Homo sapiens: one gene and its partner. The protein of the gene in region 2 purifies or fractionates together with the protein of the main gene of each other region. This does not show direct contact. Each region holds a gene or a part of one and is shown on either strand. Other genes may lie near its edges. The genes, in order: METAP2 and FCRL2.

Region 1 (4,488 bases), on a different chromosome or scaffold from region 2:
ATTAGCTGCTTATCATCCATATTCACCCTGCCAGGAATTGGGCCATTTGAATTTGCAAATTGTGTATAGTCAGCACTAAATCAGTTGTGGAAATTGGGGCTGTGAAAGGGTTGTTTATTCAACATTTAATGAATATTTATTGAGCATTCTCAGGTGCCAGTCTCTTTATAGTAGGCTCTAGGGGTAGAGCTGTGAACATAATTCATAGGGGGAAGCAGAAAGACCAAAAAGTGCTAAGGAGATAAAGCAGGGCAAGGCTAGATAAGGACCGCCAGGGGCTATTTCATGTTGCTGCTTAATCAGGTAGAGACTTCAAGAGATGGTAATTGTAGGCCAGGCTCGGTAGCTCAGGCCTGTTAATCCCAGCACTTTGAGACACCAAGGCAGGCAGATCACCTGAGTGAGGTCAGGAGTTTGAGACCATCCTGGCCAACATGGTGGAACCTTGTATCTACTAAAAATACAAAAATTAGCCAGGCATGGTGGCACGTGCCTGTAGTCCCACCTACTCGGGAGGCTGAGGCAGGAGAATCGCTTGAACCTGGAAAGTGGAGGTTGCAGTGAGCCAAGATCTCACCACTGCACTCCAGCCTGGCAGCAGAGAGAGACTCTGTCTCAAAAAGAGAGAGAGAGAAAGAGAGATGGTAATTGTGATTCGTTCTGAATTTTTCTTCTTTCTCTCCCCTTGACCCTTATTTATTTTTCAGGAAGGAGAAGTATATGCAATTGAAACCTTTGGTAGTACAGGAAAAGGTGTTGTTCATGATGATATGGAATGTTCACATTACATGAAAAATTTTGATGTTGGACATGTGCCAATAAGGTGAGAGACGAGACGATTGATTTTATGTGGCTAATTAGCATCTCTTCTGAGTTAACAGCATTTCTAAAAAATGTGGCATACATACAAAATAGTATATTCATGAATGTAGAGTTCTGTAGCCCAACAATAAGAAAAAAAAATAGCCTGTTAAACATTTTAACTGAGATAAAAATTACACACACACACACACACACACACACACACACACACACACACAAGTGCTCTCTTCAAGTCCGGTTTCTGATAATCATAAATGTCAGAGATTATTTTGCTAGCATTCCTAGGTTTTTGCTTTAATATTTTTCCATTGGTAAACTTCCATTTACAGCGTCTTTCAATTTACATTGAAATTTTTTAACATTTGAAGATGATTGAAATCTGCATTTACATCTTTTATATGCAGGTCTTTGAGCTTGCTGCACACAAAAGGAAATTCACATCATAATACCCTGTAGTAGGTCTCTAGTGGGGAATATAACACACACACACGCACACGCGCGCGCACGTAGACACGTAAACATGATAAGATGGCCTCCAGCTGGTGTCCTATTCAGCTGCCATCTATAATTAGGTATGGGCTATTATACATTCTGGCTTTTGATTGTTGAAAGAGCAACAATAAAAGTTTTTGGACTTCAACTACTAGGACACAGCTAAGGTCTGGGCTTTTCTTAATGAGGGAAATCAGTTCGTAACTCTTTTGCCAACAGTTAATTTTGGATTTTCTCCTCTTAGGCTTCCAAGAACAAAACACTTGTTAAATGTCATCAATGAAAACTTTGGAACCCTTGCCTTCTGCCGCAGATGGCTGGATCGCTTGGGAGAAAGTAAATACTTGATGGCTCTGAAGAATCTGTGTGACTTGGGCATTGTAGATCCATATCCACCATTATGTGACATTAAAGGATCATATACAGCGCAATTTGAACATACCATCCTGTTGCGTCCAACATGTAAAGAAGTTGTCAGCAGAGGAGATGACTATTAAACTTAGTCCAAAGCCACCTCAACACCTTTATTTTCTGAGCTTTGTTGGAAAACATGATACCAGAATTAATTTGCCACATGTTGTCTGTTTTAACAGTGGACCCATGTAATACTTTTATCCATGTTTAAAAAAGAAGGAATTTGGACAAAGGCAAACCGTCTAATGTAATTAACCAACGAAAAAGCTTTCCGGACTTTTAAATGCTAACTGTTTTTCCCCTTCCTGTCTAGGAAAATGCTATAAAGCTCAAATTAGTTAGGAATGACTTATACGTTTTGTTTTGAATACCTAAGAGATACTTTTTGGATATTTATATTGCCATATTCTTACTTGAATGCTTTGAATGACTACATCCAGTTCTGCACCTATACCCTCTGGTGTTGCTTTTTAACCTTCCTGGAATCCATTTTCTAAAAAATAAAGACATTTTCAGATCTGAGAGCTACATCTCAATGTCTGTGGTTATAATTCTGGACAGGATAAATAGCTAAACTTAATGTAGGCAAATGCAGAGACATTTATCTGAAATGTAGACCTCTACACTGAGACTTTTCTGGCATAGTGGCTAAAACAAGATCTACACATGCATAAAAAGGGACAATCACCTTTTCTTCATAAATATACAGCTTTAGGAATATTTCACCATTCTTTGTAGGACATAGTAGTCCTTGTCTTTTTTTCTCCTGACATTGGAAAGATGTGCTAATTGAAACTTGACTTAGTAGGAACATTGTGCCAACTCAAAACCTTGATTTAGTAAAAATCTCAATGTTTAGATCCTTTGTCCAGTGGTGGTGTTTATCAGGGAATGTATTCAGCTTGCTCAGAAAACCAAAAGGGTATTAAAGCCACAAAAGCAAAGAAGAAAAAAAAAAACTTCCCATGTTTGGATCTTGTTCTAGTTAGAAAAATTAAGTTGAAATTCTTGGACTTTTTCATTCATGAGGCAAATGCTGTAATACCTTCCCCTTTGACAGGTTTGGATTCTTAACATTACTAGTGGTATTTCAGGAAGTGACGTTACAGTTACTTTCCTTATAGCGGCTAAGTGTATTAAGTTGAATGTAACGATGGTAATATTAATTTGTTTGAACTGAGGCCCACTACTGATTCTTTGACAAATTGAATTCTTATATTTAAATAATTTTATGGGAATGTTCCATCATAATTTCTAAATCATTTATATATCAAGGTAGCCTTAATTTGTATATGTTTCAGTACAATGAGATTTTATTGCCTCTGGGATGCTGTTTAGTTTGTATTTTGTTGAACGTTTTTATCCTAGGAAGAGAAACCTATGACTTGTGTACCTAGATCATCTGTTACATTAAAAAGCTGCTCTTTCAGCATTAGAGCTATAAATGAATGTTACCTTGTCGGGAAACAATCTAGGTTTTAGCTGTATGAGCTATGTTTATTATGGTGCTAATGTTCAGTAGCCACATTTGACTAATGTCTCCATTCTCTGTGATGCTGTGGCTAGCAGCAGAGCTCGCCAGTTCATGCCTGGACATACTGTCAGGGCTGGGCCCTCCAGCTAGCTCCTTTGGGGTTGAGTCCGTATCTTTTTGATGTGGAAGTATAAAGCAAGTATCTTGATTTCTAAACCCAGCAATTTTAGAATTGACCTTTATGAGTGAAGACTTTTGGAGCTTTTAAAGACCTTGGCAGTCATGATCTCAAACCAATTAGGAGCTCCAAGCTCCCTTCCCAGGTAACTGTTGGGAGCAATGGCATCACTGTATGCCCTTGTAATGGCTGGAAGGGACATGATCTTGTAAGTAGGAAAGCTGTAACTAAAAATTGTATTGTTTGCTTATTAGCCATGTATCTCTTAAAATTTTGTTATGTTTACAACGATGTACCTTATTGGCAACAAGTTATTAGTTTGATGTTTAACAATAGTGCCTTTAGTAAATTATTTTACAACTAAAACATGTTGTTTTTTGTTAGATCAACTTAGCAGAATGTAGACGTCCATGTTGAGATTTAAGATAAATAGTAAGAAATCTAAGTTTCTGTTTATTGTTTAGGTTTTAATTTTATTGTTGGTATTTTGAGACATTTTTCACACTAAAATTTAGTGGAAAGTACTACAGATTTCCCAGACCCCCCCCCAATAATATCCCCCTTTTCCAAGCCTCCCCCCATAGGTGTTTGTTAGTTTTAAGGGATTAAAAAGTAAAGGGCTAAGTCACTTTGTTTTTTTTTTTTTTTTTTTTTTTTTTTTTTTTAGCGGGAGTCTCGCTCTGTCACCCAGGCTGGAGTGCAGTGGCGCGATCTCAGCTCACTGCAGCCGGGTTCAAGCTATTCTCCTGCCTCAGCCTCCTGAGTAGCTGGACTATAGATGCATGCTACCACGCCTGGCTAATTTTTTTTTTTTTTGTATTTTTAGTAGAGATGGGGTTTCACTGTGTTAGCCAGGATGGTCTTGATCTCCTGACCTTGTGATCTGCCCGCCTCGGCCTTCCAAAGTGCTGGGATTACAGGCATGAGCCATGGCGTCCGGCCTCTTGTATGTTTTTATATTGAAATAAGTACAAGCAACGATACCATTACAAATAGCTCAGGAGTTTTTACAGTTCCATTAAAATGACGTGCTAAAATGTATAACGTTAAAAATAGTCCTTGAAATTAGAAAAGAGTAGACTCTGGTTATCTTGACCATGTAAATTTT
Region 2 (7,300 bases):
AAAAGCAGTTCAGCTATACTAAATATCTGATACTATTCAGATCTAACTTTGATGCCCTATTCTGTTTGTGTGTATGTCAGTGTGTGCATACGTGTGTTTGTGTGTGTGACTTGTATGCCTTCGCTTTATAACAATACATTTTTTATTCCATCAAGGTTGTTCCCATCATGACTATGCTATTCTTACAGAACTTTTCTGGATATTATTGCTTACTTATTTTCCCTACAAACAATATAATCAGTGTCTCTCAACAAAGTAGTTTTGTTAGGATTCTCTTAAATTTTGAGATTAATTAAGGAAGAATTGACAGCTTTATAATGAGAAATGTTTCTATCCAAGAGTGTGTCTACTTTTGGTAAATTTTGAGTCATAGTATTTTAGAGTTTTACTTATATAGGCTTTCACCATTTCTTGCTAAGTTTACTCCTGAGATATTGATTAATTTTTGCTATGATAACTGATTCATCTAACAAGGGTACTCTTAGAGTGCAACCATAAAATTTAATTTTTTATCTTCCTCTTCCTACTGCCCATTCACACTCAGTCTTAGAGGATTATATTTTCCCTGACTCTGGTTGAAATCGCAGGCAGGCCCATAGTCTATCCACTTACTCCTTGTATTAGTCGGTTTTCATGCTGCTAATAAAGACATACCTGAGACAGGGCAATTTACAAACGAAAGAGGTTTAATTGGACTTATAGTTCCACATGGCTGGGGAAACCTCACAGTCATGGCAGAAAACCAGGAGGAGCAAGTCACATCTTATGTGGATGGCGGCAGGCAAAGAGATAAGCTTGTGCAGGGAAACTCCTCTTTTTAAAACCATCAGATCTTGTGAGTCTTATTCACTATCATGAGAACAGCACGGGAAAGACTTGCTCCCATGATTCAGTTACCTCCCACTGGGTACCTCCCACAACATGTGGGAATTCCAGATGAGATTTGGGTGGGGACACAGCCACACCATATCACTCCTATATAATTTTAGGCAAACAACAACAAAAACATAGTTTCTCCAAAGAGCGCTTGTTCATTAAGCAGCTTTCTGAATCTCAAAGTTAAAGCACTCACCTCCCACCCACTCAGCTCAGACCCTCTTCAGGCCAGCCTTCTGCAATATGGAAAGGGTTCTGGCCAGATGTTTCTCTCTTTCCTCAACTTGCTTCTGTTTTTGAAACCCCCATGGCTGGCATTGATTTCCTCTGGCTCTGAAAAAGCTGACTCTCCAGGTTTGCTCGGTTGAGAAAATCAGCTCCTATTTTGGGGGTGTGTTTCTGGATTCTCCAGAGCCCCCCAACTATTAACATTACCTACCTGCATCTTGTGATGCAGGTGATTCATTCTTCTCCAGCTGAGCACTTAACATCTCTCTTCAGTTTCCAAGAATCTAAAGTCTTCTTCCTCTTCCCCTCCACCCTTATTTTGGAACCCTATACCTCTTCAGGAAGTCCTCTTGGCCAGATTTTGAAATGGCTTCAAGCTTTGCCTCTCTTCCACAGGGCTCAGATCCATCCACAAGAAACACTTGCACACCATTGCACCCACCTGTAAATATGCAGCTCCTGCCTCAGGCAGATGACCGTATCTCCCCTGAAATGAATGTTCCTTTATCTGCTTTTCAAGGCTCCTTAAGATTTTTCAGGCATGTGTCCACACGGGGCACTCCTCCCCACACCAAGCTGGCCTTAATATTGTCCTCCGATTGACTATAGGCTCCTCATCTCCCTTTTCTTAGAGCATTTACTTTAGAAAACTTGCAATTGTAAATTCTTTCTCTGCCTCCTTGAGATATAAATCTTCTCTTAGCCTCTTGCCAGTTTTACAACCCAGAAATGTCTATCTCTAAGACTTGGGAGCCAGCCCTTTGAAATGTAACCATCTAGAAAGATAGTGCCTCTATCTCCTGTATGGTAAAACTCTTAGAATTTATTATTTGATCTACCAATATTTCTTTCTAATTCTAGAATTCTGCTTTTATCTTTGTTAGTTATTGCCTTCTATTTTTGTTAGTTTGATTCTTTTGAACAAATTGGATATTGAGTCTTCCTTTTTTTCTTATATATTTGTATACGTATTCAGTTGCTTAAGACTTGCTTCCTTTAAATTGACAAATTATAGACATATGTCAATTTTTTCATAGTTTTGTTATGAATTACCAGTTCCATTATGATCAAGGAATATTATTTGTACCATGTCGATTTTTGGAATATTTTGGAGGTTTTCTTTGTGAACCAATGTATCATCACATTTTGTTATTATTCAAAAGTGCTTAGATAGTAGAACTATTTTTGAAGTCCATTTTAAAATAATTTCTTCAAGAAGGAATTGCTGGAAACATATACACTAATTTAATACATGTTTGAATATGACTGACTGCCCCTTACTTATGCTTTAATGACAGTTTGGCTTGGTAGACAATTCTGAGGTCATTCCTTTCCATGAAGACTAAACAAGCTAATTATAAAGAAGTTTTACCTTCTCCTTGGAAAACTAAATCAAAGTTAATTTTCTAGCACTGTTTTCTGTAAAGCCTAACAAAGTTGAAATATTGGCTGAGCTACTAGCAGTATTTTCCATGATAGGCAAACTGCCTCTACACTGGGAGGACTTTGACCACGATTATATAAGCCTGATGGGAAGCACAACTGGGGTATCCCCAAATGCAATGTAACTCTTGAAATTTAGCATGTCTCTTGTAGTAGTGACCTCTGGAAGCTACACACATACACTCATGGGTGTTACAAGCGATACTGATTTCTACGAAGCATGAAGCTTTTGAGCTGGGGTGGCCTCTATATACATCTATGTGGCATTGTTTCCTGAGGTATTAATGGAGGACTAGAAAATATCTCCTGGATCGCTATGAGGATTCTCTTTAAACACACAGCTGATACATCTATGCTAATATACTGCGTTTCTTGTTTTACATCTCTCCACAAAGCAAAATGGTACAAGAGATGGCCTAGTTCGCCTTACGAATGTCAACATCCAGCTTAGCCCCAAGATCATTCCTAAAGACTAAGTGTTGCAAATATCAAACATTTAAAAATTAAGAATGGCTGCATAAAATCTAATACAGAAGAGCAATAAAATAAAATTAGTCATCAATGGTTAAAATATGTTATACATTAGGATAGTTAAAACAACATTGTACAGGTACATGAATAGACAAAGAGACAATAGAACAGAATAGAAAATAAAGAAACAGTTACCAGTGCATGACGGGTTTGCCATTTGAAGTGGCATTTTAAATCAGTGGGAAAAAAAGAATGAATTATTTTACTAACAACTAGTTGTGTTGGAATAAATAAGTAGCCATTTAGATGAAATACAATTGGATTACTCTTCTATATCTTATGTCTTACCAGCTGATTATACGTAGTTAAATCATGTCAAAATTTTAAGAGATAAAGCTTCCTTCTCTGAAATGAATTTTGTTTTATTTGCATTTCAGGAGAAAGTTCTGCCACTAATGAACCCAGGTGAGAACTCTTCCTAGTAAAAATTTTAATTCTAGAGGTCTCCTTCATTCAGTTTTAAATACCTACTGTACTCTGCTTGTACGTTGAGACTGAAGCTATGTAATTAACATGGTATCTTTCTATAATACTTACTCTTGTCTCTACTGCATTACATTTCTGCCACCAGGGCACTGTCTTAAGGTGGTCCACATGATCCTTGGTGTTATCTTGTATAGGATTACATACATTTAAATTAATATATAAATTCATATATTCAAGATTATTGAATACCTATAATGTATAAGTAAGTTTTTGTTAGATATTTAGAGGAAAGAACATACACACAAAATGTGTATTTCCTCCAGGGACATACTGTGCTATAGGTATGTAGTATATGTCCAGAGTACAAGAAGGAGTGAGAGAGATAAAGTAATGAGAAAAAGGCAGGCAAAGTTTTATGACAGTTTATAAGAAAAAAAAAGATTCTGGAGCAATATCATTGTCTTATTTATAACTTTTGAAAAAGCCAAAGATAAGGAACAGAAGTTTTGGCCATATCAAAGTAGATAGTCTACACAAAGGGCCATAAAATCACCCAAGCAGAGAGCCATGGCTGCAGGGCTTCCACCTGCTCTCTCCTCAGCCAGTCTCCCCTCTGTTCTCACTCACTGCCCTGGGGATTATCATACAATTAATTCACTTTCTCACAGAGGGGCTTCCAGGCCAAATCCTCAAGAGTTCACCTATTCAAGCCCAACCCCAGACATGGAGGAGCTGCAGCCAGTGTATGTCAATGGTGAGTGTCTCCACTGGGAAGGGCTCTGAGGCTGAGTCAGAAAAGAAAGAGGAGACAGGAGCGGAGACCATTAGGTGGGTGGTGTAGACACCCCAACACCAGAGGCCCAGCCATTCCCAATAAATAACAGACTCTCTCAGAATCATGTTGGGGTTGAGAGGAAGGATATAATCATTAAGCCAGGGCCTGGGAAGCTGTGTATGAAGTGTGAACCCTGGGCCACCAACATCTGTGAACTCTTGTCTTCTCCCTGCAGTGGGCTCTGTAGATGTGGATGTGGTTTATTCTCAGGTCTGGAGCATGCAGCAGCCAGAAAGCTCAGGTGAGAAACTGCAAAGTAGTTCTTGTCAGATGCATATTCACAGGAAAGTGATGCATTGTTTGCAATAGAGGCTTTATTTATTTATTTATTTATTTATTTATTTATTTATTTGTCTATCTATCTATCTACTTTTGAGGAGCCTTGCTCTGTTGCCCAGGCTGGAGTGCAGTGGTGCAATGTCAGCTCACTGCAATCTCTGCCTGTGAGCTGATACAGGAAAATTGCTTGATTTTCCTCTCTCAGACTCCTGAGTAGCTGGGATGAGAGGCATGCGCCACCACGCCCAGCTAATTTTTGTATTTTTAGTAGAGACAGGGTTTCACCATGGCTGGATTCAAACTCTTGACCTCAAGTGATCCACCCGCCTCAGCCTCCCAAAGTGCTGGGATTACAGGTGTGAGCCACTGCACCCAGCCAGCAATAGAGGCTTTAATACATCACTTGCCCTTGATAGGAAATCTGTTGATCCAGGAGGGAGCAAGAGACACCTGGAGGTAGGCTCTTGTGAAGAGAGCAAACTTAAAAAAAAAAATAGGGTGATGGTCTAATGAGTCTTCATTTGAATCGGGTTAGATAGTCAGGGAGAATCTAAGATTCAAGGCAAAAGAAGGAAATCAGGCAAGAGTGAGCATGTCTAAAGTCCAAGAGGAATTCTCTCAGGTGAACAGGGTCATTAAAGTGTCTCTTTTGAAGGATCTGTAGTCTTCATATGGGATGGGAGGAATAACTGAATAAATCAACATGACCTAGAGAATTTTCACTTTGACACGTAGCTTTGCAGGAACTGCTGAGTTCTGCAGCAGTGCAGAGGAGTGTCCTTTAAGCTTCTGCTCCAGTGCCCTTAAAACTACAATGCTTATATCAACAACCCTAAAAGCTGTCCTTTGTTCTGTACTCCTGGTTGCCTCTGATGGAGCCAGTGGCTGTTGACAGCTTGGCTGATTTCCTGGTCAGTGGTCATCTAGCTACTCTCCTCTGAGCCTCTGAAGGTGGGTCCTCTGTCTGCCTTGCTTAGATTTGCCACTTCAACTTCCTATAGGGAGTTGATTACCCTATCATTCTCTTTCTCTATCTGACCAGCCTAGCAGAATCAAAAAGTGCAGTCACTTTCCAAGCCCTCTAGCTGTAAATCTTCAAGGGAAGGAAAGGGATGTCATCCCACTATGCCTACCTGGAAAAAGGGGAAAAGAAGCAGACATCACTAAGCAGCTCCTGCAACCAGACTCAAAATACTATGTGATTCAGAGTCTGTCTTCTGTTATCTATGCTTCTATTCCAATTTCCTTCTATGTAGTGAGGTGAACCACACATGATTGGTTATCTCAGGAACATAGAGAAAGAACAGGAAACAGCCCTGACAGAATGCTGCAACAGAGAAGTCAAGAGGAAAAAATTATAAAGACAATGACCTATGGGAAGTTGCATTAGAGAAAGGAAGCGCTTTGTTAGTAAGTGCTGGTGGAGGGCTTGGAAGATGGATAGAGTCTTAGAAGGACTTCAGTATTAACAACTTTAAGAAAGGATTTTACAGAACAGGAGAAAATGGGATTCCACATACTAAGCATAGTAGTTCTATGCCCTGGGGCATAAAGTCTGGGAGTGAGGCCTAATTAAGAATGCAAGAGCTCAGAACTATTACTTTTTCCTTAACAGCAAACATCAGGACACTTCTGGAGAACAAGGTGAGCTAGACACCTTGGAATTTCTTCATCTTTCCTTCCTTCTCCCTATTTATTTTCTTGATCACCTCAGTCTTTATTCCTGTGTGTCTCTCCCAGGACTCCCAAGTCATCTACTCTTCTGTGAAGAAATCATAACACTTGGAGGAATCAGAAGGGAAGATCAACAGCAAGGATGGGGCATCATTAAGACTTGCTATAAAACCTTATGAAAATGCTTGAGGCTTATCACCTGCCACAGCCAGAACGTGCCTCAGGAGGCACCTCCTGTCATTTTTGTCCTGATGATGTTTCTTCTCCAATATCTTCTTTTACCTATCAATATTCATTGAACTGCTGCTACATCCAGACACTGTGCAAATAAATTATTTCTGCTACCTTCTCTTAAGCAATCAGTGTGTAAAGATTTGAGGGAAGAATGAATAAGAGATACAAGGTCTCACCTTCATCTACTGTGAAGTGATGAGAACAGGACTTGATAGTGGTGTATTAACTTATTTATGTGCTGCTGGATACAGTTTGCTAATATTTTGTTGAGAATTTTTGCAAATATGTTCATTGGGAATATTGGCCTGAAATTTTCTTTTCCACTGTGTCTCTGCCAGAATGTTTGTATCAGGCTGATGCTGGCTTCATAGAATGAGTTAGGCAGGAGCCCTTCCTCCTTGATTTTTTGGCATAGTTTCAGCAGGATTGGTACCAGTTATTCTTTCTGCATCTTGTAGAATTCAGCTATGAATCCATCTGGTCTAGGGCTTTTGTGTTGGTTGGTAAGTTTTTTATTACTAATTCAACTTCAGCGCTTGATATTGGTCTAGGAGGGGTTTCTGTCTCTTCCTGGTTCAATCTTGGGAGATTGTGTGTTTCCAGGAATTTAGCCGTTTCCTCCAGATTTTCTTCTTTATGTGCATCGACTTGAGTGTAAACATAACTTATATGCACTGGGAAACCAAAAAATCTGTGTGACTTGCTTTATTGCAGCATTTGTTTTATTTTGGTAGTCTGGAACTGAACCTGCAATATCACCAAAGTATGCATATA

The links.
Region 1: the proteins of FCRL2 (region 2) and METAP2 purify together in Homo sapiens (affinity purification with mass spectrometry; 2 studies listed by BioGRID and IntAct, with this or other methods). This does not show direct contact.

What each region holds. Positions count from the first base shown.
Region 1 is NC_000012.12:95,512,094-95,516,581, forward strand, and holds the end of METAP2 (methionine aminopeptidase 2), read left to right. Parts: intron 1-707; coding exon 708-823; intron 824-1,558; coding exon 1,559-1,811; 3' UTR 1,812-3,746; downstream 3,747-4,488. UniProt on the Homo sapiens protein: Cotranslationally removes the N-terminal methionine from nascent proteins. The N-terminal methionine is often cleaved when the second residue in the primary sequence is small and uncharged (Met-Ala-, Cys, Gly, Pro, Ser, Thr, or Val).
Region 2 is NC_000001.11:157,745,833-157,753,132, reverse strand, and holds part of FCRL2 (Fc receptor-like protein 2 isoform 1 precursor), read left to right. Parts: intron 1-3,455; coding exon 3,456-3,483; intron 3,484-4,172; coding exon 4,173-4,258; intron 4,259-4,514; coding exon 4,515-4,580; intron 4,581-6,233; coding exon 6,234-6,262; intron 6,263-6,332; coding exon of another isoform or gene 6,333-6,358; coding exon 6,359-6,397; coding exon of another isoform or gene 6,398-6,471; 3' UTR 6,472-7,300. UniProt on the Homo sapiens protein: May have an regulatory role in normal and neoplastic B cell development.